2 separate regions of the Homo sapiens genome follow, and region 2 is linked to region 1. The links come from fine-mapping of genetic effects on gene expression. A gene starts in region 1. The other region holds a variant in brackets. All regions are shown on one strand. Distances are between the middles of the regions.

Region 1 (12,304 bases):
AGATGGGAAATGTGAGTGATGAGAGCATCTTAAGGCTGACCAAATGGGGAGAAAGGAATGTAGGGGGCTGAGGAGGCCAGAGAATTGACAGCCTGGCAGGACTGAAATGATTTGGGTTTAGGGGAACGAACATTAATTTCTTTCTTTTTTTGAGACGGAGTTTTGCTCTCGTTGCCCAGGCTGGAGTGCAATGGCGCAATCTCGGCTCACCGCAACCTCCACCTCCCGAGTTCAAGCGATTCTCCTGCCTCGGCCTCCCGAATAGCTGGGATTACAGGCATGTGCCACCACACCCGGCTAATTTTGTATTTTTAGTAGAGACAGGGTTTCTCCAAGTTCGTTAGGCTGGTCTCGAACTCCCGACCTGAGGTGATCCACCCGCCTCAGCCTCCCAAAGTGCTCGGATTACAGGCGTGATCCACCGCACCCGGCCAATGGACATTAATTTTATGCTAATTCCATGCTAAGCACAAGTGTGACATGACAGCTTCTCTTTCCTATCTTGGACATAGGGCTTTCTCCCTCCGTATTTGTTCAGTGTTGTAGAGTTGATCTGTTACAATGTAAGTTTTATTCTTCCAGGGGGGAAAACCACCAGGAGCAGCTTTTAGCCTGTGTGTGTTGTGATCAAGTCCTATTCCTTATTTTTCAACTTCTTCCACTGTTCCTCCCCCTCCAACAACACTCACCCACTACATGGTTCCCATACAGAAGCTGCTCCAGGATTGAAGTTTTGCCCACAGACGCCTGGCCACACACGACCACCTTGCAGCTCTTCCCCATGCTTAGTTTTCAACCTTGAAGAACAGAAGCACGCTGGGTAAGGTGAGGAAAGAAAGCATCAACACAGAAGGCAGTTACTAGCAGATGTTTTCTGGTGGACAAAAACAAAAACCAAAAAAACAGAAGGCAGAACGTCCATAACTGAGAGTTCTAAACTGAATGTATAGTTCTAAACTGAATGTATAGTTCCAGGGTTTCAGCACCATCCCAATGCTAGTCAGAGGAAACGGATGTCTCCATGTCTACTACTGGATGGTAAGCTGTTATTTTATTCGTCTTTGTTATCCCCAGTACCTAGCCAGTATCTGTCACAGGGCAGGTGCTTGGAAATGCTGCCATAAAGGGAGAGGAGAGTCACTGGCCACTGGGCCAGGTTCCCTTCTGTGCGCAAGATGTAGAGGACCAATTAGTAAAGGGAGCTCAGCCCAGCTTCCTCTCTTTAACCATGACCCCATGGAGAATTAAGCAGGAACAGTGTTTTGTGTGGCTGTCTGAAGCCATCTGCTCCCTGGGGGGACTGAGCAAATAAAAAGGATAATCTGGGGCAGGGCACGGTGGCTCACGCCTGTAATCTCAGCACTTCGGGAGGCCGAGGTGGGCAGATCACAAAGTCAGGAGTTCGAGACCAGACTGGCCAACATAGTGAAACCTCATCTCTACTAAACATACAAAAAATTAGTCAGGCGTGGTGGCGGGTGCCTGTAATCCCAGCTACTTGAGAGGCTGAGGCAGGAGAATCGCTTGAATCCAGGAGGCGGAGATTGCAGTGAGCCAAGAATATGCCACTGCACTCCAGCCTGGGCGGCAGAGCAAGACTCCGTCTCAAAAAAAGACAATCTGCTTTCCTGTACGACTCATCTGGACAACAATCAATTCCCTCTAAACTCCAGTCAAGTCTATGGCTAAAATGAACATAAGACAAGAGAGAAAAGAATGAAGAAACCTACGGAAAAAAAGGCTTCAGAAAGGACATACTTTTTGCTGCCCTTGGACTGACAGACACAAAAGAGAAAGCTCAGATACAGAAACCCTAAGAGGTCCCAGACAGATATCTCCCCGAAGGCAAACTTCCAAACACAAGCCCCCCAAAAGCTCCAGACAAAGATCCCCCCCAGAGAGCAGAGATAGATCACTCCCAAAGACGGTCCCTAACAGAAACCTCTCCAGGGGAAGCTCCTGACACAGACCCCCTCTCCATATAGCGAGCCCCACAATAAAGGACACCATAAGAGTGGGCCAGAGGTGCCTCCGCCACAGATTTTCTCACGGGGGAGCCCCCAGAGGGAATGAGAGGCAGAGACCAGCCACCTAAAGCGGCCCGGAGGCGGAGGCCGATCCTAGCGCCGGACGAGCCTCGCCTCCCAGGTCCGTACCTCCCGGGGCCCCCGCAGCACCAGCCGGGCCCTCCGAGCTCGCGGGGACCAGGGGAGGGGCAGCGCCGCCGCAAAGGCTCCAGTCTTCCTCCAGAGTCGGTGTAGGCTCCTCCAGGCCCCGCCCCCGCCGCCTGCCCGCTCCCCAGCTTCCGTCAGGCAAGACGAATTCCGGCAGCGGAGAGAGAGCGCGGACCGCGCAGCTCCCCCAGAGGCCGGCGGGAGAATGACGGCCAGGACCTGGCCTGGGTGTGCGCGGGAGCCCAAGGTTCTAGACTCCCTGGACGCGGGCCGCTGGGTGTTCTGGTGTCTCTGAGGCCCAGATGTTCTCTCTGTAAAGGCGATCAGAGTACAGTAACTCTTCGTTTACTCAATCATTTATTCGTCAAATGTTTTCTGAGCATCATCTGTCTGTGCCTGGTGCAGGGCCATATACTGAGAGAAAGTGGACGAGTTAGACATGGTGGCTGCCCATCAGAACTCACGGTCTAGAGAAGCTAGATGTCTAACAACTACTGAGGTGCTGTGGAGCACAGCAAAAGGGCATTTAACGTTGAGTCAGCAGACACTGAAGGGCCTGGGGGAAAGGGTGTTCTAGGGTGGAGGAAACGGCTACAAGTCATGGCATTTTCTGAAACTATGAGAACTTGGGTTCAATATTGGTGGTAGAAAGGACCTAAATATTGGTACTCAAATTAAATTATTTAAAAAAAGAAACAGATAATCAAAGGCTTTGTGTGGTAGGCCAAAGAGATCAAATTGACGGCAATGGAAAGCCATTGCCAATGAAGAGACATGATCAGTCCCTGAGGAAGGTCACTCTGGCAGAAGAGGGAAGACTGAACAGAGATGAAATTAGAGACCGATTAGGAGACTATTGATGTATTCCAAGTTTTTTTTTCTGTTGTTTTGTTGTTGTTGTTGTTGCCGTTTTTGAGACAGGGTCTTGCTCTTTTCTCCATGCTGGAGTACATTGGTGTGATCATAGCTCACTGCAGCCTCTAACTCCTGGGCTCAAGTGATCCTCCTGCCTCAGCCTCCCAAATAGCTGGGACTACAGATGCATGCCACCACACCCAGCCTATTCCAAGATTTTAAAAAATGATGAGCGCCTGAATCGGGATGGAAAGGTGGAGATAGATTTGGGAAATATTTGGTAGGAGAATCAACAAAACTTGGCAACAAATTGGAAGCCAAGAGTGAGAATGGTTTAATCCATTTAACAAGATACGGAATTTAGGAAAGATAATAATTACATCCAACATTTGTTTTTTCTGTTGTTGAGGTGTGGGTAGACAATGAAAAAGTTAAATTTAAATATGGTAAGCCTTGGGGATTTGTGAAACATACAAGAGATATCCAGTAGATAGTTGGATATACAGCTGTGGAAGCTGAAGAAAGGTCTAGGTTGGAGATATGAAAAGTTGAGAGTCATCAACAGATGGAAGTAAAGCTGTGGGAATAAATGAGTTGCCTTAGATAGAACATAAAGTGGGAAGATGGTGAGACAGGTTGGCTAGCATTAGACTGGACTATGAGCCACTGGCAGGCAGGGCAGGTGGTCTGTAAGTCTTGTGCCCTCACAACCTAGCACAGAGTAGGCGTTTTGGAAAGGGCTGAGTGATTGGCTCAACGAATGACCCCTCCTTTCCAACCTAGTGAGCTTGTCCTATCCCTCCCTACTCAGTGGTCGCTGTGGTTTCAGCTCCCTCCACACTGGGATAGGCAGAGTATGAGCATTGGCACATGCTGTTTTCCTGGAACAAACAGGTAAATCCTTTTAAAATTCCTTTGCCCTCTTCTTATTTTACTCTTAGCTTTACATTGTAAAGCTACTCCTCATACTCCTCCAATTTAACCCCAGAAAGCTCCAATTTAATTCAGCTCCACAAATAGTCGTTTGGGTGAGGGAATAACAACAAAGACAGTTAAACTGTGCCCTTGTCCCCTATGAATTCTCAATCCAGACCGCATTCGGCAAGGCAAGCGTGATGAGTAGAGAGTTTATATAAGAGGTGGGAGTACTGGGGACACAAGAGCAAGGACCTCACCCCGCGAGCTTCCTTATAAACTCCAGGGCAGGGTCTGGGGCGCCATGTGTCAGCTTTCCTAGGCTTAATGCTGAGATGGCACTCCCAGGCGGCTGACATGAAAGGAGCCTTGTAAAAGGGTCAGCGTCATTAGGGTGATGAACCAGTTGGTGTTTGGAGATCCGGAGTGGATGAAAGGCGCAGGGTGAAGACGCCCTGCGTTCCCCTGGCTTGACTGGGCAGGGCTTCCAGAGAACGATGAAAGCTGGGGGAACTGAGCTCAAAGTGTCTCTTGACTTTCCCGGGAAGAAGCTGTGGACACACTCCAAGGTCGGAAAGGTAGCAGTGGGGACTCCTTCCCTACAGAGTCTTGGGTCACCTGGTCCCCACGCAACCCAGACTCCACGGAGCCTTTCAGGAAGACTCTCTAGGATTGGAAGTTGCTATGGCAATGAGGCTCTTGGAATACTGAAAGCAGCCAAGCCCTAGAGAGGCTACCACCGGTACACCCCGCCTTCCCACCCACGGGTAAAGTGGCGCCGCCTACGCACCGGCACAGCCCCTGGGCTCCCGCCCCGGCGCGGAGACCACCGTGGACATCCGGGGGCGGGAGGCCGCTCTGGCCCCAAGCGGAGCCTCTCTCTGGTAGACGAGCCCGAGGGAGCCCTTCTGGGCGCGGCGCCGCGGAGCTGCTCTATGCTCCAACCGGAAGTGCTCTTCACCGCCGGCCTCCCACCCAGCTCTCTGGTCCCGGCGGTAAGATGGCGGCTGCCGCGGAGTGCGATGTGGTAATGGCGGCGACCGAGCCGGAGCTGCTCGACGACCAAGAGGCGAAGAGGTAACCGGGTAGCAGGGTAGTAGAGGAGGCGACCTGCAGCTCCGTGGCTCAGGGAAACTCGTTCCTGCCATGATGCAGCCCCCAGCTGTTGAGGCGATGCCCCGCCCTCCGCAAACACCCCCCCATCTGAGATCAAGGCCGGATGGACCCCCTGAAGGGGCGCTCTTGGGGGTCGGCCTTCCTCTCCCGCTTCCGCCTGGCGTAGGAGCTGAGGCATGGCCTTGTTCTCCAGCTGAGAGGACGATCGTCCTTATAGGAGAGGCCGAGTCTCCGAGGGCAATTTCAGAGGTCTGGTGCGAGGTGGGGGAAGCGGCGCGGCGTCGATGACGACTTCCTTACATCGCCCCCGACCCCCGCGTTCTCTTGTTAACTTCTGTGCATTGTTGCCTGTCTGCACTTTCCGTCTCCAAAACCTTTGCTCTCCTCACCCCGTTTTCCCTTGTAATTATACCCCAGCGATCACTAGTCTGGGTTCGAAGTGATTGTGTGTCTCCATAATTGACCTGGTTGCCCCCGGTTATCCCAGAAGTCAAAGATGACAGAGAAAAAAAGGAAGAGCGAGGGGCTTATCTCGTGTTCTCTACGTCAGACTCCTCTTCCCCTGTCCTTCCTGGGTGATCTTTATCCTTCCCAGCACTGTTCTTTCTTAAGTTAAGCACCAAGGAAGAGGGCAACTGCTTGGGCGCTGTTGGCACTCCGAAGCAGCCGCAGTGGTTCGAGATTGCCAGTCGGACTAGCCAAGGGAGCTGCTGAGTGAGTGGTTTTCGAGAACGCTCTAGATTCTGGCAACAGTTAGGCCAGATTATTGGAAGTGGGGTTGGAACAGAGTTGTGGGTAGTCATACTTGTTCTAATCCTAAAGCAGAATTGACAAGAAGGTTCTAGAAGTTTGGAGCCCTTTCCTTATCAGCTGCGGGTTAGTCTGACCCTTTTGTTCAAGATATCTACAGTGCCCTCAGTCTCTTTGCAACATACTTTATATCTTCATACCAAGCCCGTTGTGTCTTCAGGCTGGGTAATTTGAGGCGGTGATGTAGAATTAGTTCATGAGATCTGAAATCAGGATTCTGAGATTTTTACTATCTAATGAGTTCGAAATATAAGAAGTACTCGGACGCAATGAATAGTTATCAAGCTTGAGGGTGGTTACCACAGCCAGATCTCAAGTTCCTGATCTGCTGGGAGCTGAGGGGCCTGACAAAGTGTAATAGGCCCCTGGGATATCAGAGAAGCCAGGACACCAGAGTCCAGTCTCTGTTCTTAATTTTGAGCTTTCATGTTGTTCCTACTTCTTCCTAGATATTTAAAGCTAAGCATCATCAACCCTTATACATCATTAAAGAGCTGCACAATGGGAAACAAAATTCCTCCCAGTGCAGACGGAGCTTAAATTAATTGTAGAGATTTACTTGTATTTGGAAAGAGTTCAGTGGTTCTTTATACTGTAAATAGGGATTTGGCCACAGGTTATTTATTTTTTATTTTTTGAGACGGAATCTCGCTCTGTCGCCCAGGCTGGAGTGTAGTGGCGCGACCTCAGCTCACTGCAAGCTCCGCCTCCTGAGTTCACACCATTCTCCTGCCTCAGCCTCACCAGTTGCTGGGACTACACGTGCCCACCACCACATCCGGCTAATTGTTGTTTTTTTTTTGTATTTTTAGTAGAGATGGGGTTTCACCCTGTTAGCCACGATGGTCTCGATCTCCTGACCTCGTGATCCGCCCACCTCGGCCTCCCAAAGTGCTGGGATTACAGGCGTGAGCTACTGTGCCGGGCTGGCCATAGGTAATTTTAAAAACTCACCCTACTCATTGTAAATCTCTGATGTAGAGTGTCCCTATTTTGGACTTCATTTCATAGCCTCCTATCTTAAGCAAATACATTTCTTCAATCACAGCCTTAGAGGATAGTCTATCATAAAATTGGAGTAAATGAACCTGAAGACATATAATAAAATAGGTTATGCTGTAATGTGACCACATCACACAAAACATGGTATTTGATAGCAGTACAACAAAATAAGGTAAACTACCTTATTTCATGGAATTTAAGTGTCATTAGGCTGGGTGCAGTAGCTCACACCTGTAATCCCAGCACTTTGGGAGGCCGAGGCAGGTGGGTCAGCTGAGGTCGGGAGTTTGAAACCAGCATGGCCAACATGGCAGAACCCTGTCTCTACTAAAAATACAAAAATTAGCGGGGCGTGGTGGCACACACATGTAATCCCAGTTACACGGGAGGCTGAGGCAGGAGAATCGCTTGAACTCAGGAGGTGGAGGTTGCAGTGAGCTGAGATCGGGCCATTGCACTCCAGCCTGGGTGACAAAGTGAGATTCCATCTCAAAAAAAAGTCATTGATTGCAGAATGCAAATTATTTTATCTGTCACTAAGAAAATGTAACTGTAAATTAAACATGACAACATGCATTATTCCTGTAGTTCAAATAGTGACAGAAAAAAATTAATTAAAAAAAGAAAAAAGACTGGGCGTGGTGGCTCACACCTGTAATCCCAGCACTTTGGGAGGCCAAGGCGGGTGGATTACCTGAGGTCAGGAGTTCGAAACCAGCCTGACTAATACGGTGAAACCCCATCTACTAAAAATACAAAAATTAGCCAGGTGGGGTGATGCTGTAATCCCAGCTAGTCAGGAGGCTGAGGCAGAGGTTGTGGTGAGGGGAGATCATGCCATTGCACTCCAGCCTGGGCAACAAGAGCAAAACTCCGTCTCAAAAAAAAAAAAATCAATTAAAAAAAGAAAAAAATGCATTCTTATCAGACTTTTATGTTTCTCATATATAGCACTGTTTTCGACAGACTTAAACATAGTTATTTATTATATACCACTTTTTTGCACAAATCAAAAGGAAAATTGGCTGGGTGCAGTGGCTCACACTTGTAATCCCATCATTTTGGGAGGCTGAGGTGGGCGGATCACGAGGTCAGGAGTTTGAGACCAGCCTGGCCAACATGGTGAAACCCCATCTCTACTAAAAATAGAAAAAATAGCTGGGCGTAGTGGTGGGCACCTGTAATCCCAGCTACTCGGGAGTCTGAGGCAGGAGAGTCGCTTGAACCCGGGAGGCGGAGGTTGCAGTGAGCCAAGGTCACACCATTGCACTCCAGCCTGGGCGACATGGTGAGACTCCATTTCAAAAAAAAAAAAGGAAAATAAGTGAAATAAACAAAAAAATCAGTTTAACTTTTTGCCATATCAGACATCCTTAGAAGAATAAACATTGGCCGGGCGCGGTGGCTTATGCCTATAATCCCAGCACTTTGGGAGGCTAAAGCAGGCTGATCACCTGAGGTCGGGAGTTTGAGACCAGCCTGACCAACATGGAGAAACCCCATCTCTACTAAAAATAGAAAAAAAAAATTAGCCAGGCATGGCGGTGCATGCCTGTAGCCCCACCGACTTGGAGGCTGAGGCAGGAGAATCACTTGAATCCGGTAGGCGGAGGTTGCGGTGAGCCGAGATCGTGCCATTGCACTCCAACCTGGGCGACAAGAGTGAAACTCTGTCTCAAAAAAAAGAATAAACATTAGGCTCTGTTAGTATGAAAAAGCCTTGTTTATGTATGATTTTTCCAGTGCTGAAAATGGGATGGAGATTTAGAAGCTTTGGAGGGAGGTGGTTTTATGTTTTTCATGTGTCCTGGATTCCTCTTGTGTGGCCATAGCAGAGGGCAGTGATAGGGGCATCCCTTACAAATGCCCTTTTACTGTCTGGCTTGGTTAGAGTTCTTTGGCCAAGTTCCTGCCTCTGTTGTTATGGTCCTCCTACCAGTTCATTTAGGGATCAAGAGTTAATGAGTCTCTCGGGTCGTTTTTGTGAGGTCCAGCTTTGTAAGGAGTCCTTCCTTCCTTACGTCTTGGCTTAAGACATGTCCTGCTGCTGCTAAGTTGTCACAGTCCCATAGGGGGGCAAAATGAGAGGAGCTTTTAAGACGGACTTCACGATTGCAGCATTTTAAATGGCTACATGTTTTATTTCCTTAGCTTTAGTGTTTCTGTAGAGAAAAGAGATGGATTTCAATTTTTTTGCATGTCACTCTGACAAAGTTCTGTTTCCCTTACAGCAGCCAAGAAACTAAAATAAGGCTAGGCTTAGTGGCTCATGCCTGTAATCTTAGCACTTTGTGAGGCCAAAATGAGAGGATCGCTTAAGCCCAGTAGTTTGAGACCAGCCTGGGCAACATAGTGAGACTTAGTCTCTATAAAAACATTTAAGGCTGGGTGCGGTGGCTCACGCCTGTAATTCCAGCACCTTGGGAGGCTGAGGCCAGTGGATTGCTTGAGGCCAGGAGTTCGAGACCAACCTGGGCAACGTGGTGAAACCCGCCCCCCATCTCTGTAAAAAAAAAATACAAAAATTAGCAGGGTGTGATGGTGCATACCTGTAGGCCCTGCTACTTGGGACGCTGAGGTGTAAGTATCACCTGAGCTGGGGGAGGTCGAGGCTGCAGTGAGCTGCGATCACACCACTGCACTGCATCCTGGGTGACAGAGTGAAACCCTGTCTCAAAAAAAAGGGTTGGGGCTAAAATAAAAGATATATTAGTTGGCACTCCAAAACAGATCAGGATTCTATGCATGAAGATTATTTCTCTTTGCTCACCAAAACAGGCAAAGCTATTTATGAGCCAGAGGGTTAAACTTCAGATGTTTCACATTTCAACTAACTTAAGGCTTTATATTTTCCTGGGAAGTTGCTGACTGCTTTACCTAATATGGGAATACCTGTCTTGAATTAAGGATCTCTTGTTATATCTCCTGGGCTGGGAAACAGCTTGATCTCTATAGGGAGTCTTTCTTATGGTAAACTTGAGGGATTTCAAATTGTTTTCTTTTCTTTTTGACGGAGTCTCGCTCTGTCACCAGGCTGGAGTGCAGTGGTGTGATCTCAGCTCACTGCAAACTCCGCCTCCTGGGTTCAAATGATTCTCCTGCCTCAGCCTCCCGAGTAGCTGGGACTATAGGCGTGTGCCACCACACCCAGCTAATTTTTGTATTTTTAATAGAGACGGAGTTTTACCATGTTGGCCAGGATGGTCTCGATCTCTTAACCTCATGATCCGCCCGCCTTGTCCTCCCAAAGTGCTGGGATTACAGGCGTGGGCCACTACACCCAACCTCAAATTGTTTTTCAAAGAGAAAACACTTACGTGTCTCAGCATATACCTAGTGTGACTGGACAACAAGATCTAAAAGAATCAAGGGATCCATAGACTTAAGAGTCAGGACATCCTTACCTGATTCCTTGAGCTGATAAACTTAACTTCTCTGTATGTTTTCCTGATGGGCACAAATAAGAGCAATTCTTATTAGGCCCTTACTACCTAGGTATTGTACACTCTTTGCGATTAGGATTTTGCCTTTTATTTCTCTATTCAGATTGTTAATGGGAACAACTGAACTCTCAATTCATGTCCCGGGTTTCCTGTAGTTGCTGTTCGTTTGCTGCAGCTTTGCATGGTGTTTTTGAGTTTGTGGCCTCACTTAACTGAAGAGCTTGTGGGCATGCCTCCCCAGCTTTCTTCCTTACCTGGTTTTAAATTCTTAGGAATGTGTCCTTCTAATCTTCCTCTTGAAGTTTCAGAGCAAGCACCTAGACATTTCAGTAAGCCTCCAAACTGAGTGGGAATTTATCTTTGACCTGGAACCCAAATCAGTGAGAAACACTATTTTCCTTTTGCTGTGCACTAAGTGTAGTCAGATGTGAAGAAATGGGAGATGGGAGGAGAAATAAGTTAAGGAAGGGATAAACCTAGGAATACAGAATTCTCAATACCGGCAAATTAATTGAACCCTGATACTAACAGATGGCAAAGTAGATAATCATAACTGGAGCAAAGGTAGAGTACAGAGAAAGGTTCTCTCTTAGTGCTTTAGTTCAGATCCACATGTTAACTAGTGCCAGAGAAACAAGAATTTTGAGAAAATATAGGGCCAAGTGAGTGGCAGTTGCTTAGAGTCCAGTCCACTCCCAACAAACAGAACTCTGATTGGCCGAAAGCCCAGCCTTATTGTACATTCCAGCCAATCAGGGATTAGTTTAGTCATTGAAGTTTGTATTTTAATGGTTTTGAAAAGCTGAGTACTGGGCACTTGCTTTTTTGTTCTTCGGGACTTTAGAAGTTTGGAGAACAATAGTCAGCAGTTGCCTAGTTGCTTTGTGGCCTGATGCAGAGTCCCTCTGAGAGCCCATTTCTCCCTTACTGCACTAGTCTTTGGTCCCCTTTCTCCAGCACTGAGTGATGTGGAAGTTACTCAGAGGTCTTTCCAGGTATTCTTTTAAACTTTTGAAGTAAGAACAAAATTCAAAGTGCAGTTATCCTAACAGGCTATTCATTTTATTGGAGTGACACTGTTTTTCCTTCTCCCATTCGGATCAAAATGGCAATTCCTATGTTTTACCCTCACCATGGGTAAGAATATGAGTGGTTGAGGCTTTTGAGAATGGTAATAGGAGGAATATATGACTCTCAGGTCTTATTCTGAGACGTGAAATTCTATTGGCATGTGACTTACAATTTGTGTGGGGAGGCCAGATTGTCAGATAAGCAGTGTTAACCATCTCTCTTGATTCTAATATTACTTTTGGAGAGAGTGTGAGGGGCAAGCAGGACCCTCTCTTGTTTTTGGAGTTTCTGTCCTGAGAGTTCTTCCTTGGACAGTTTGCCCTGAGACAGTTAACCACCTGTTGAACTAAGGAACCAAGACAACTTTGAGAAGTGAAATACCGTTGACAATCCAGGCTCCTCCCCACTCTAGTTCCCATCTCCACCCCACCCCACTCCACCCAAAAAAACTCAGGAAGCAGCCTTTATATATATATATTTTTGAGACAGAGTTTCATTCTTGTTGCCCAGGCTGGAGTGCAATGGCGCAATCTTGGCTCACTGCAGCCTCCGCCTCCCGGGTTCAAGCAATTCTCCTGAGTCAGCTTCCTGAGTAGCTGGAATTACAGGCATGCGCCACCACGCCCGGCTAATTTTGTATTTTTTTTTTTTTTTGTAGAGACAGGGTTTCTCCATGTTGGTCAGTCTGGTCTCGAACTCCCGACCTCAGGTGATCCACCCGCCTTGGCCTCCCAAAGTGCTGGGATTATAGGCGTGAGCCACTGCACCCGGCCTAGGAAGTAGCCTCTTTCTTTCTCTCTTTCTGTCTGTCTCTTTCTTTCTTTCTTTCTTTGTGATGGAGTCTTGCTGTGTCTCCAGGCTGGAGTGTGCAATGGCACGATCTCGGCTCACTGCAATCTCCGCTTCCTGGGTTCAAGC
Region 2 (12,304 bases), 520 kb after region 1:
GGCCAACGCTGACCTGGAGGTGAAGATCCGTGACTGGCACCTGAAGCAGAGCCCAGCTAGCCCTGAGCGGGACTACAGCCCCTACTACAAGACCATTGAAGAGCTCCGGGACAAGGTGAGCCCTTGGAAGCTGAGGAGGGGTCCTCCATGAAGGGCAGAGCCTCCAAGGCCAAGAAACACAGTGTTGTGGGGGACTAGGTGTGGACGGAATTCACAAACTTCTTGCAGGGGAAAAGCCTACTGTTTGACTACCAAGAGTCTCTACCTCTGATGGGCTTTCTCATGCCACAACTCCCCAAATGCATTTTCTCTCATTATTCATTTTTATGATTGTTATTACTCAGGTCAGTTTTTTTACTGCTTTCCAGACAGTTATGTTATTCATGACTCGATCTCTATAATCCTAACCTACTGAGTTATCTGGAAACATGACAGGTTTAAAAGCCATTAAGAATGCATGAAATCAACAGAGAAAGAGAGACGTGTTCATTCATTGCCCTGGGAATAATTGTTTACTTTGTAGGGGACCCATTCAAACTGGTATTCTCAACTGGCGATGGCCAAGTTGGGGGAGAGAGAGGCAGAGGCTTAGGCAGTGCCGAGCCTGGGTGCCCTTTGTTGAGCCCTGTCTGTTGTGCTGTGATACCAGCCTGTTGGAGCAGAAATCTACCAGCCTGGGCTGAGTCTCAGCCATGTGGAGCAGGCTTTCACTGCTTTGGAATATAAACGTTTAGACAAGAAATTCAAAGGGATGGGAATATTTGTTGGATTTCCCCTCCACTCAGCTGGGAAGTCAGCTCTAGCAAAGTGATTGTGAGATATGTGGCACCAAGCCGAGTCCCTCCTGACTTTCAGGGGATGGATCTCAAGACAGTGGCCTAGGGAGGGTGCTAGTCTGAGGCTGCCAAGACATGACGAACCAAAGATGTTCTCAGCAGGTCGTTCCTCAGAAATGCACTCCCTGCATCTCCCCCAGGGTGCTCAGACATGGAATATTAAAGTGTTAGAAACGATTGGAGGGGATGCAGCCCCACTCCTCACTTTACAGAAGAGCAATGGAGGCCCAGAGGGAAATGCCTTGTCCCAGCTCACAGGACAGTTTAGAGGTAGAGCCCCATGGGAACCAGGTCCTGCCCATGTTTTCCCAGGCCACCTCCTCAAGCACGTGGACCCCCCAGAGCAAGCTTGTCTAACCTGTGGCCGGTGGGCTGCATGTGGCCCAGGACAGCTTTGATTGAGGCCTAACACAAATTTGTAAGCTTTCTTAAAACATTGAGTTTTTTTTTATTTTTTATTTTTGCCAATTTCTTTTTAGCCCATCAGCTATCGTTAGTGTTAGCGTATTTGATGTGTTGCCCAAGACAATTCTTCTTCCAATGTGGCCCAGGGAAGCCAACAGACTGGACACCCATGCCCTAGAGGTTACCTTCTTCTGCATTTTGTAGATCCTGACCGCCACCATTGAAAACAACCGGGTCATCCTGGAGATTGACAATGCCAGGCTGGCTGCGGACGACTTCAGGCTCAAGTGAGTTTTTTTTTTCCCCCTCCCTCTCCTTTCCCAGGAGTCTCTTAGTTTAGACAAAAGCTCATCTGACCAATGACACTGGAGCATCCCAGGAGTGAAGGTCTGGAAGTACTGGAGTCTCGTGCAGGGGTAGGGAGAATGTCTCATATCATTTATGTCTTGCTTTTTCAAAAAACATTTCATTTTTTTACTATTTTAGGTATGAGAATGAGCTGGCCCTGCGCCAGAGCGTGGAGGCCGACATCAACGGCCTGCGCCGGGTGCTGGATGAGCTCACTCTGTCTAAGACTGACCTGGAGATGCAGATCGAGAGCCTGAATGAAGAGCTAGCCTACATGAAGAAGAACCATGAAGAGGTGAGCGGGAATTGCAGGCTGCCCTGGGCTCAACAACCTCCAGTGAGAAGGAGGAGCCCTCCCCTGCAACTGGACACAGTCCTCCACTGTGGGACCTGGAAACACTCTCCAGAACACTCTGCCAGCACTCAGAGCCAAGGAGAGGGAGGATGAGTAGCCTCACACATCTTCCTTTCCCATCCCCACAGGAGATGAAGGAATTTAGCAACCAGGTGGTCGGCCAGGTCAACGTGGAGATGGATGCCACCCCAGGCATTGACCTGACCCGCGTGCTGGCAGAGATGAGGGAGCAGTACGAGGCCATGGCAGAGAGGAACCGCCGGGATGCTGAGGAATGGTTCCACACCAAGGTACCCGGCCCTCCCACCCCACATAGCCCATCCCATATAGCCAGGGGGGCCGGGCGGACACAGCCTCTTGGTCAGGCTGCTCGAGCTGAGCTTCCCCACCACCTTCTTCCTGCTTGCATTTCAGAGTGCAGAGCTGAACAAGGAGGTGTCTACCAACACTGCCATGATTCAGACCAGCAAGACAGAGATCACGGAGCTCAGGCGCACGCTCCAAGGCCTGGAGATTGAGCTGCAGTCCCAGCTGAGCATGGTATGCCTGCAGCCTCCTGCCCGGTGGCGACCACCTCTAGGTTTCCCTCTGGCCTGGCTCCCTCTGTAACTTCTTGTCTGTCGCTCCACCAGAAAGCGGGGCTGGAGAACACGGTGGCAGAGACGGAGTGCCGCTATGCCCTGCAGCTGCAGCAGATCCAGGGACTCATCAGCAGCATCGAGGCCCAGCTGAGCGAGCTCCGCAGTGAGATGGAGTGCCAGAACCAAGAGTACAAGATGCTGCTGGACATCAAGACACGTCTGGAGCAGGAGATCGCCACCTACCGCAGCCTGCTCGAGGGCCAGGACGCCAAGTAGGTCCTCTCCAGCCTCTTTCTTAGGATAGTGACTGCAGGACCCGTGGGTGTCAGAGCAGGCAGGGCCTTAGAGATCCACCCCCTCATGTCAGAGAGGAGACCCCTCACTGTCTGACTTTACGGGGACATTTCCTTGGTAGGCTGCAGGGTTAACACCTTTAAACTTTCTAATTTGGGCCTCCAAGTTAGACTGGAGGGAACAGAGACCATGGAGGGAACATCTGATATTGGAAAAACATGAGCTTGGATACAGCTCAGCTGAACAAAGCTATTACTATGGTGCTTTAACTGCCTTTAGACCCTTTGCAGAAATCAAGCCACCCCTGTGGGCTCAGGGCTCAGGTGGAGGGTTGCGGGTTTGGGCGATCCAGAGGGAAGACAAACACCCTGAATCTTGTGGCTAATAATATCTCCCCTTGAGACCTCTCAGACAGACAGACAGGAAAGACAGACAGTCCCAGTGGGCACCTGATGCTGCTGTCCCTTGAGCTGGGGGCACAGCTAGGAGGCACTAGAGTCCAGCCCAGGGGCTTGAAATGATAAGCCGAGGCACTTCCCCAGAGGAACAGGTAAGCACCTGCCCTCAGTTACCCTCTGCTCATGGCCACCTCTGTCCTCTCTCCCAGGATGATTGGTTTCCCTTCCTCAGCAGGTAAGGGAACAGCCCCGTGGTGTAGGGGGAGGCAGAGTTAGCCTCCCATTCACTGCCCCAATGGGGGTGGGAGCTGGCGGGGAGGGAGGGAGCCAGTGCTGGGCTCTCCAGTGTAGGGAGGGGGAGAGCTGGGGTGGAAGTGGTCATTCGCTCACTGATTTTCCTTTTGAAACTGATGGCTCTGCCCCACAGAGCTATTTGGCTGTCTTGGGAAGAGCCATCTTTGGGGACAATAAAGAGTCTCCATCCACGCACCACCTGACTAATGAGGAGTTTGTGAGCCCTCCAGGGGGGCCCTGCCCTGTCCTGAGGTGGGTCTTCTCCAGCCTGAGCATGTCTTGTCTCTTGTTTCCCAGGAAGCGTCAGCCCCCGTAGCACCTCTGTTACCACGACTTCTAGTGCCTCTGTTACCACCACCTCTAATGCCTCTGGTCGCCGCACTTCTGATGTCCGTAGGCCTTAAATCTGCCTGGCGTCCCCTCCCTCTGTCTTCAGCACCCAGAGGAGGAGAGAGCCGGCAGTTCCCTGCAGGAGAGAGGAGGGGCTGCTGGACCCAAGGCTCAGTCCCTCTGCTCTCAGGACCCCCTGTCCTGACTCTCTCCTGATGGTGGGCCCTCTGTGCTCTTCTCTTCCGGTCGGATCTCTCTCCTCTCTGACCTGGATACGCTTTGGTTTCTCAACTTCTCTACCCCAAAGAAAAGATTATTCAATAAAGTTTCCTGCCTTTCTGCAAACATATTTTTGATTCTGGCCTGGTTTCTTAGGTGGCCCCTGCTAGGGCCCTGGTTTAGCGGGTGAGGGGGACACAGCTGGGCGGAGTAGCTAATCCAGACAACGACAAGCCTGGGGAGCTTCCTATCTAGGAAGGACAGACATAGGCCCATGGGCCATCTGAGCACACAGACACAACAACGGCAAACACAGGGGACACAGGCAGCTCACAGACGATGGTGTCCAGCAGACATGGACAGACGGAACACACCAGAGAC[A/G]GCGCAGGGGCACGTGAGCCAGTTCAACAGCCTTGCAGATTAGGATGTTCAGTGAGAATGGCAGCTGATAGTAGAGTCAAGGGAGCGTGAAACATGGGCAAAAAGTACAGATGCCTCTGGGGCAGGCTGCAAGGGGCCAGTGAAGGGGTGATCTGGGGAGAAGGAGGCCCAGCCCCCACCTGCCACCTCCCTGCTTCCTGCAGAGAGGTTTATTCTCAGGCAAATGGCTCCTTGTTGGCCTGAGGCATCCACTCCTAATGTCCTCCCCAGCCCACCCCTAGGTCTTGCCACTCCCAACCACTCCTGGGACCAGCTCCCTGGCTGGCCGCTGCACTAACCTGGCCCCTTCTCTCTGTGCTCCCCACTCTCTCCCTGCCGCTTTGGCTGCCCCTGCTCTGATTCGCAACCTCTTCCTGCTCTGCTCACTCCTTGCACGTTGACTCACCTCCTGGATTCCGGTGTGGGTGTTCTTCTCTTTTTCCTCTTCACTGTCCCTGTGGGTCATCCAGGACATAACCATGGTTACAGTTGCCTGTATGTTCTGATAACGCCCAAACTCGAATCTCCACTGAGGCCCCTCCCAGCCTCAGACTCCCATTGCCAACAGTGAGCCAGACATCACCTCCTTCAATCCACCCAGGCAAAAGAGCTCCCATCATCCTCCCAGATCTGCTCCTTCCTTGCCCTTTATCCCGGAGAACCTGGAAAGCTGAGCCAGGAGCCCAGGAGTCATCCTGGCCTCCTCTGTCCCTCACCCCCTTCACAATGCTTCCCGTGGACACTGCATTAGCCATAATGTCCTTCCTGGTCCTAACTATGGGCACGTGGCCACAGCCTCCTCACTGGCCTCCCTGCCTCCATGCTCCACACTCCAGCAGGGGTGATTACTGGAAACTGAGTCTTCTTCTCAGCTTAGAGACACCCCAATCGCTCCCTGCTGGTCACTGAGGAAAGCCTAGACACCTCGCCTGCCTCCAGGTCCTGGTGGTGCAGCTTCTTCTGGCCTCTCCCCAGCTCTGGCTCCTACACTAGCCTCCCTCACTCACCCCAAATTCCTGCCATCCCAAACTGCCCTTGAGGAAGCAGGCAGGTGGCTGGGCACCCTGGGGATTTTGTTCGGTGACAGACCTCTGTCTGACCCAACCTTCTTCTCTCCTCTCTCTCCACACTCCTGTCATCATTTTATTGGAGACTACCAGTTTTTTATTCAAAATTCAGACTGAGATGGATGCCCCCTCCTCTGCAGCACCTGGCTGGGGTGGGGCACACTTGGGTGTTCACATGTGTGTGCCCACCTGTCCTAGAACTGACAGTATCGCTGAAGTGTCACTGAAGTGACAGTGAGAAAGGCAGGGCTGTGCCTTCCTCAAAGCGGGCGGGGGGGGGGGGGTCTCTCATCCAATAGAGTGCAGGTGGGCTCTGTCAGTGCTGATGAAAGGCAGAGGTGAATGAACAAACTGGGGAAATGCCCCTCCAGTGCCATTTGATTTTCGTTAAGGGGCTTAAGGCAGAGGGTAGATGGAGTTCCGGCACCCTGGCCATCTGCCCCCTTCCTCTGGCACCATCTTCATATTCCCTCCCCTCCCCTCTGCTGCTCCCCTGTGTGGTCTCCCCCTTCCTTGTCTTCCTTCTCTTCCCCCACCTCAAGCCTGAGTATGGGCTGCACACAGTTGTCTTATTCACACAGTGGTTGCTCAGACATGCCTGGCCCAGCTTGCTAAACTAGCAGAAAGGTGTCTACCCTCCACCATTCCAAATCCCACCCCAGACCCCGCCACCCACTTGTTCCTACAGAACAAGGTGGGGCTCGGCTCAAGTTCACGTGCCTGGAACAGCACCAGAGGAGCTAAGGCATTAAAGAGAAACAGGACATGCCCTTGCTCCCGGCACCTTTTAACGTTTTTGGTAACCTATTTGGTCAGCAGCTATCTATTGAGTGACCACTGTGTACCAAGCACTGTGTGGGGTCCTGGAGAAAGAGAGGCAGATGAAAAGAAGGCTCTGTCTTCAAGGAGTCCACGGGTTAACAGGAAGGTAGGAGGAGACACCCACAGCAATGAACAGTCAACAGTCTTCACAACTCTGCTCAGGTTTCATCGTTTGCTCTGGGTCTTCTCTGGTCTTCCCCACCGATCCCAGCAAGACCCTGTGCTGTCAGCAATGACTGGAGTGCAATGTTTGTGGAGCCCAGAGCCACAGGGACCTGATCTGCATTTGTAATCCTGGGCAAGTTACTTAACCTTCCTGGCCTGACTTCCTCATCTGCTAAGTCTTCCTTCCTCATAGGTTAATTAAAGTCAAGTGCTCAGAACAGTCACTGGTGCATAGTAAGTGCTCAGTAAACAAGATACCTCTGGTCATGATCTTTCTCGTTCTCTTTTCTAAGCTATGCGTTCCTTCTGGGTAGGGCTGGTTTCATCGTCAGTCTCATCCTCATACCTAGAACGTTATAAGGGCTCAATAAATGTGTTGAATGGAGAAATGAGGGAATAAATAGATACAAGCTATGGGAAATGAAAGTGGTAAGTAAGTATTGTACAGAGAGCACAGGAGCCCCTACCCTAGACTGAGAGAGGGGCCTGGGGTCTCAATGCTGAGCTACCCTGGCTGCTCCAAGGCACCCTGGGGTCCAGATCCCAGGGCTTATGGGGCCCAGAGCAGCCCCTCTTCCTGAGACCCCGGGCATGGCTGTTTAGGGGCAGCCCCCTCATTCTCTGAGCTAGTTTTGCAAAACTTGGTGGGGGGTGAGGGTAGTTGCCCACAGGAGCAGTGAAATGAGCTGCACTCTAGGCCCAGTGGGGACTCTGGCCTGGGAGCCTTTCACCCAGACCCCAGCAAGGACACTGAGAAGCTGGGCCCCATCTGAGGACCTATGTGGCCCCATCAGGAATCCCGGGGAAGCTCAGAGGGCAGGCCGAGAGCAGGTGTTTCTGCCAAAGCTACCCCAGGAGCCTTCTTGAGTTGGGAGTAGCAGGTGGTCATCCCGGCTCTCTGGTCAGAAGGGTAGGAGAGGCAGTGGGTGGGGAATCCGCCTCATTCTCTCTGGGACTCAACTCTTTATCAGGTGTGGGGCGGCCATTCAAGTGAGGGCAGATTTATCAGGCCTGCTGGGTCAATGCTCCCCTTCCCAGGGTTGACCTAGGTGCCACGCCCATGCCAGTCTCACACCGCTGATTCCCAGTGCTGTGGCTATGAGGAAACAGCCCCTTTCCATTGGCACCTGGCTAATGTCCATGCCAATGATTGTGAATGAGGCCATGTCAGCACAAGAGATGCCGGAATGAAAGAGATAACGGAAAGGGGGACACAGTAGCGCATCCTTTACTCTCATCCTTTCTTTCATTTCATCTTTACAGCAATCCCATGAATTGGCACAGCTGTGCCCATTTTACACATGGAAAGACTGAGGTCTGGACGGGGTCAAAGACCTGCCCAGCGGGAGAGCTGGGACCTGTGGTTCCAATGTGCTTTCCAAGACTGGGGCTGGTCCTTTGCCAAGGGTCAAGCATTCGGCTCCAGGAATCTGGGGGAGAAGTGAGGCTCTCTCCCAGACCCCAAAGCCTAGGGGATGAAGGAATCAAGCCTGTGATGTTCCTGGGGTGTCTTGGCACCTCAGAGCCAGGTCGGGTTCTGGAGGGAGGAGGGCAGCGGGTGGCACACAGAGGTGGAGAGACGTGGCGCTGTTCTGTGACTCCTGGTGCTTCAGCCACTTCCTCCTCACCCCAAGCAATAGGCACCTCCCTCTCTTCCTGGCTCCACCCTGGGGAATGAGCCAGGCTGCTGCCCTCCTCAATGCGATGGCTGTCCTGCCCAGGCCCTGCAGGGGGCAGGCTCACCCCAGAAAGCAGATCAGTGCCTCAATGGCCACCTGCTGGGATACAGGGTGGAGTGGCTGGGCCCTAGACCCAGTCCTGGCCGGGCCTGGTCTCAACATAGGGCCCCGTCCGGTCCCCAGCTGGGCCCTTAACAAGCAGGGTGTGGCTGCAGGCACATTCCAGGCCTGAGACCCCCTTGGCGCCTGTTCCCCTCTGTGTTGGGTGATAGTTTTGAGGATCCACAGAAGACCCTTGACAGGCAGGGTGTGGCTGCAGGCACATTCCAGGCCTGAGACCCCCTTGGCGCCTGCTCCCCCTCTGTGTTGGGTGATAGCTTTGAGGATCCATAGAAGATCCTGAGTATGAGATGGGGTGTCTGGGCCTTCCTGGCAGGGGACTCTCACTGTCCCAGCCAAGGGAAGCTCTGGGGAAGATTAGGAAGCAAAGTCACAGCAGGAGGTGCAGGGCGATGGGTGTGATGGACTCTTCCAGATTTTTTTTCTTTTTTTTTTTGAGAAAGAGTCTTGCTCTGTCACCCAGGCTGGAGTGCAGGGGCATGATCTCTGCTCACTGCAACCTCTGCCTCCTGGGTTCAAGCAATTCTTCTGCCTCAGCCTCCCAAGTAGCTGGAATTACAGACATGCACAACCACACTCAGCTAATTTTTGTATTTTTAGTAGAGACAGGGTTTCACCATGTTGGCCAGGTTGGTCTCTAACTCCTGACCTCAGGTGATCCACCTGCCTCCGCCTCTCAGAGTGCTGGGATTACAGATGTGAGCCACTGCGCCTGGCCACTTCCAGCTTTTCTTATCCAGCTGTGGGGGCCCTTCCTTCCTCCCTGCCTGGGTCAGGGCATCTGAGGGGCGGCCCAGGGAACTGGCCTCTTTTGGATGGTGTCCCTGGGACTGTTGGTGGCTGGAGCAGAGCAGAATATGTGGGTTGTGTCCCTTTGAGCAGCTCCTCTGGGGGCTTCAAAAGAGCTGGGCACTCTTTACACCCTCCATCCTCCTGCAGAGTTTGAAAGAAAATAAGCAGGTGGCGGGTGCTGCTGAGACTTGCACAGGCACCTGTTGGGGGTGGGTATTTGGGGGACTTGGCCAAGAGCTGGTATCCCTTTTTATGAACAGTCATAATGACTGTGGCTTCTTTCATCCAAGGATCTCAGACCAGTTTGAAAGTAAAATCCACAGTGTCAGGCATGGTTAATTACAGCCCGGAGCCCGCAGTCTGGTTTGCAGACACGCTGTTGTTCGTAGGAAGAGAGTCAAATCAATTGCATGCCGGCCCCTGTAAATGCAGACTACAAGTCCAATCAAACAGGGTGTTTGGAAAATTCGCTTTATGGTTCAGCTAAGTGATACTTGAATCAAGGGGACGCTAGACACTGAGGTACCAGCTCTTTTCTCCCAGTGGGCCTGGCTGTGCATCTCCCACAATCACAGCTTCTTCAAGCACACCAAGGAGAGAAAGGACGCTCTGAAATGCTCCAACCATAAAAGTGGGGTGGGGGAGTTAGGGACTCGGTGAGTCTGAGCAGGAGACTGTGGACTCTTCCAGATGGGAGCTGGCAGCCAGTGCAGCTGTGCAGGGAGCGCTGGCCCCAGGGGAGAAGGTGGTGGGCCCTGAGATGTGGAAGGCCGAGCTTGGCCACAAGAGGACCAGAGAGGTATGGCTTAAGGCTGGAGTTAGGGTGGCTCTCTGGGCATCTGCCACGGCAAAAGCAGCTTGGAGCAGAACCTTGAAGTCCTGGGCAAGTGCAAAAACCACACCCCAGGGGGAGAGAAAATACTTTTGTATTTTGGGGGAGATGAGATTTCTAGAGTAACTCCGGGCCTGGTCAAGTGGGACTTTGAAGGCCCGATGAAGGTCAAGGCCTGATGGGGGCTCAGGAACAGGCCAGGAACAGCAGGTTGGGAAGCTGGACCTATGCTCCTTGTAGGGCCCCAGAGTCTCAGGAGGAGTCACTGCTCAGGACCAGGACCAACACTGTGGAGGGGCAGCCAGGCAGTGGGGGGGACCTCCTTCACCACTGAGTCATGTTCAGATTGTCTTGAACCTGGTGAGGCCGGGTGATAGCAGGGGGCAGGTGGACATTTGGGGCACAAGCTGGGGGGTGGGAAATGGAGCAGAGAGAGACTTGCTAAATCTTGTCCAGGAAGGTCTGAGTCACCCTGTTGAAGGCAGCTGCCATCAGGATGGAATGTCACTGAGGTGGCCAGGATGGGAGGCAGGATAATTCAGCTTCTGCATCTCCAAGTACTGTTTGGACTTGGGAGGGCAAGAATGACAGCCACTGACAGCAGGGTGTGAGAGGACAGGAAGGCACGATTCTCCAAGGGAAGCCCTCTGTGTCTGACCCTGAGAACAGCCAGCCATGGTGACAGGCCATCAGGGAAGGAGGGAAGAAAGAGCTGCATTTGTGTGGCCAAGGCTCTCAACCAGTGATGTTTCCTTACTGAGGGTTTCAGACACAGGACACTCAGATCAGAATTGCAGGTAAACAAACAACAACAACAACAACAACACAGACACACACACACACCCTATAAGTATGCTCCTAATACCACATTTAAAAAATTTGCTAAATCTGGCAACCCTTTCTTTATCAGGTCTGTGAATGGCCCTGAGTTTTCCACCATCAAAACTGAATAAACAGCCAGGCACGGTGGCTCACGCCTGTAATCCCAGCACTTTGGGAGGCCGAGGCGGGTGGATCACAAGCTCAGGAGTTTGAGACCAGCCTGGCCAACAAGGTGAAACCCCTCTCTAATACAAAAAATTAGACAGGCGTAGTGGCGGGCACCTGTACTCCCAGCTACTCGGGAGGCTGAGAGGCAGGAGAATGGTGTGAACCCAGAAGGCGGAGCTTGCAGTGAGCCGAGATCTTGCCAGTGCACTCCAGCCTGGGTGACAGAGCAAGACTCTGTCTCAAAAAACAAAAACAAAAACAAAAACAAAAACAAAACTGAATAAACGAGACTTTTCCTGGAGTTTTTGGAAAAATTACATTGGTGGCTAGAAAGGGCTTAATTGTAGGGTTTCCCCTTTCTGTGAGGCTTTCTTCAACTTTGTGTACCTGTTGTTGCATGTCGGCACTAGAATCTAATGTAAGTTGACAGTGGATTTGGCATGAGCTGTTGATGGGGTTATTTGACACAGAATATATAGAACCCTGCTTTTCAGGGGAGGGGCCAGGGCTCCCAGGTGCTTTGTCACTTGAACACATTCTTCGTTCCAAGGAAAATTTAGTCATGTGGAGGAAATGAGAATGAGTTGTGGGTCTCCCAGGGTCCTGGGTGACCGTTGGGTGCTGGGTGGATCTGAAGAGGTTAAAACATGGAATGAACATTTCTTAGGTGCTTCTTCTGGTGGGAAATTCTCTAGGATCTGGGTGTATGGACCTCAAGGGTGGAAGAGGCAGTAGGAGAAAACCAGAAAGATGGAGCTGAAACCAGCAGGCTGCTCTAACAGAGACAACCATTGGCCTTCTGCAGAGATCTTATTCTTGTCTGTGCCCATTTCTGGTTGGCCTGGCCATCCCAGAGGCTGCTGTCTGGTTTGTTTGCTTCACTATCTTTGGGGCCTTTGGGTAGTGGTGACCAGCATGTTCTGACCAAAGCCCAGAGAAGCATAAAAAGAGACACCCTGCTTGAAGAACTCACTCCCTCCTTGGGCACACTGTGACAGCAATGCCTTGTGCATGGAAGGGACTGTTCAGAGCTGGGCAGAAGGAGACTTGGGCTTGATATTTCAGGCCTTTGCCCATGGAGAACCTTGGTTTTCAGATGGAAGTTCATTTGAGTGTGCAGACTTCTTTCTGCCAAAGAAGGGGCCAGAAACTCAGGAGTTGATGTTGAACTTGGCAGCCTTCCAAGATGGGCGTGGGGAAAGGCCAGGATGCTTTCTGTTCCTATGGCGGCATTCCCCTTCTTCCTCCTGCCCCCAAGCTGGGATCATGGCGGATAGGTCATCCTGTCAGCACTGCAGCCTGCAGGTGGTGTGAGGGCTTTTGGAAGCTTCTAGAGTAAGGGTCAGAGGCCAGATGG

Which allele goes with the higher level. Positions count from the first base shown, and alleles are read on the strand shown. Sizes are in standard deviations (SD) of each study's normalised expression.
For the expression in pancreas of the gene that starts at base 4,922 in region 1, allele G in region 2 goes with a lower level than allele A (small effect, 0.23 SD a copy in GTEx).

The links. PIP is the estimated chance that this variant, and not a neighbour inherited with it, causes the effect.
Region 2: its variant is fine-mapped to the expression of DNAJC7 in pancreas (GTEx, PIP 0.98).

The regions. Positions count from the first base shown.
Region 1 is chr17:42,010,057-42,022,360 of GRCh38, reverse strand. DNAJC7 (DnaJ heat shock protein family (Hsp40) member C7) reads left to right here and starts at 4,922. Exons shown (of 14, transcript NM_003315.4): 1 at 4,922-5,021. The coding sequence starts at 4,945. NKIRAS2 (NFKB inhibitor interacting Ras like 2) reads right to left here and starts at 2,271. Exons shown (of 4, transcript NM_017595.6): 1 at 2,157-2,271; 2 at 690-797. The coding sequence starts at 783. RefSeq lists silencers at 1,978-2,387, 4,614-4,763 and enhancers at 4,874-5,283, 5,354-5,403, 4,514-5,713, 10,891-11,420.
Region 2 is chr17:41,492,867-41,505,170 of GRCh38, reverse strand. KRT13 (keratin 13) reads left to right here. Exons shown (of 8, transcript NM_153490.3): 1 at 1-115; 2 at 1,446-1,528; 3 at 1,728-1,884; 4 at 2,073-2,234; 5 at 2,359-2,484; 6 at 2,577-2,797; 7 at 3,427-3,452; 8 at 3,809-4,190. The coding sequence ends at 3,915. Among named protein-coding and RNA genes, the nearest start is that of KRT13, 6.6 kb to the left of the region's middle. The variant A/G (reference allele first, on the strand shown) is at 4,442.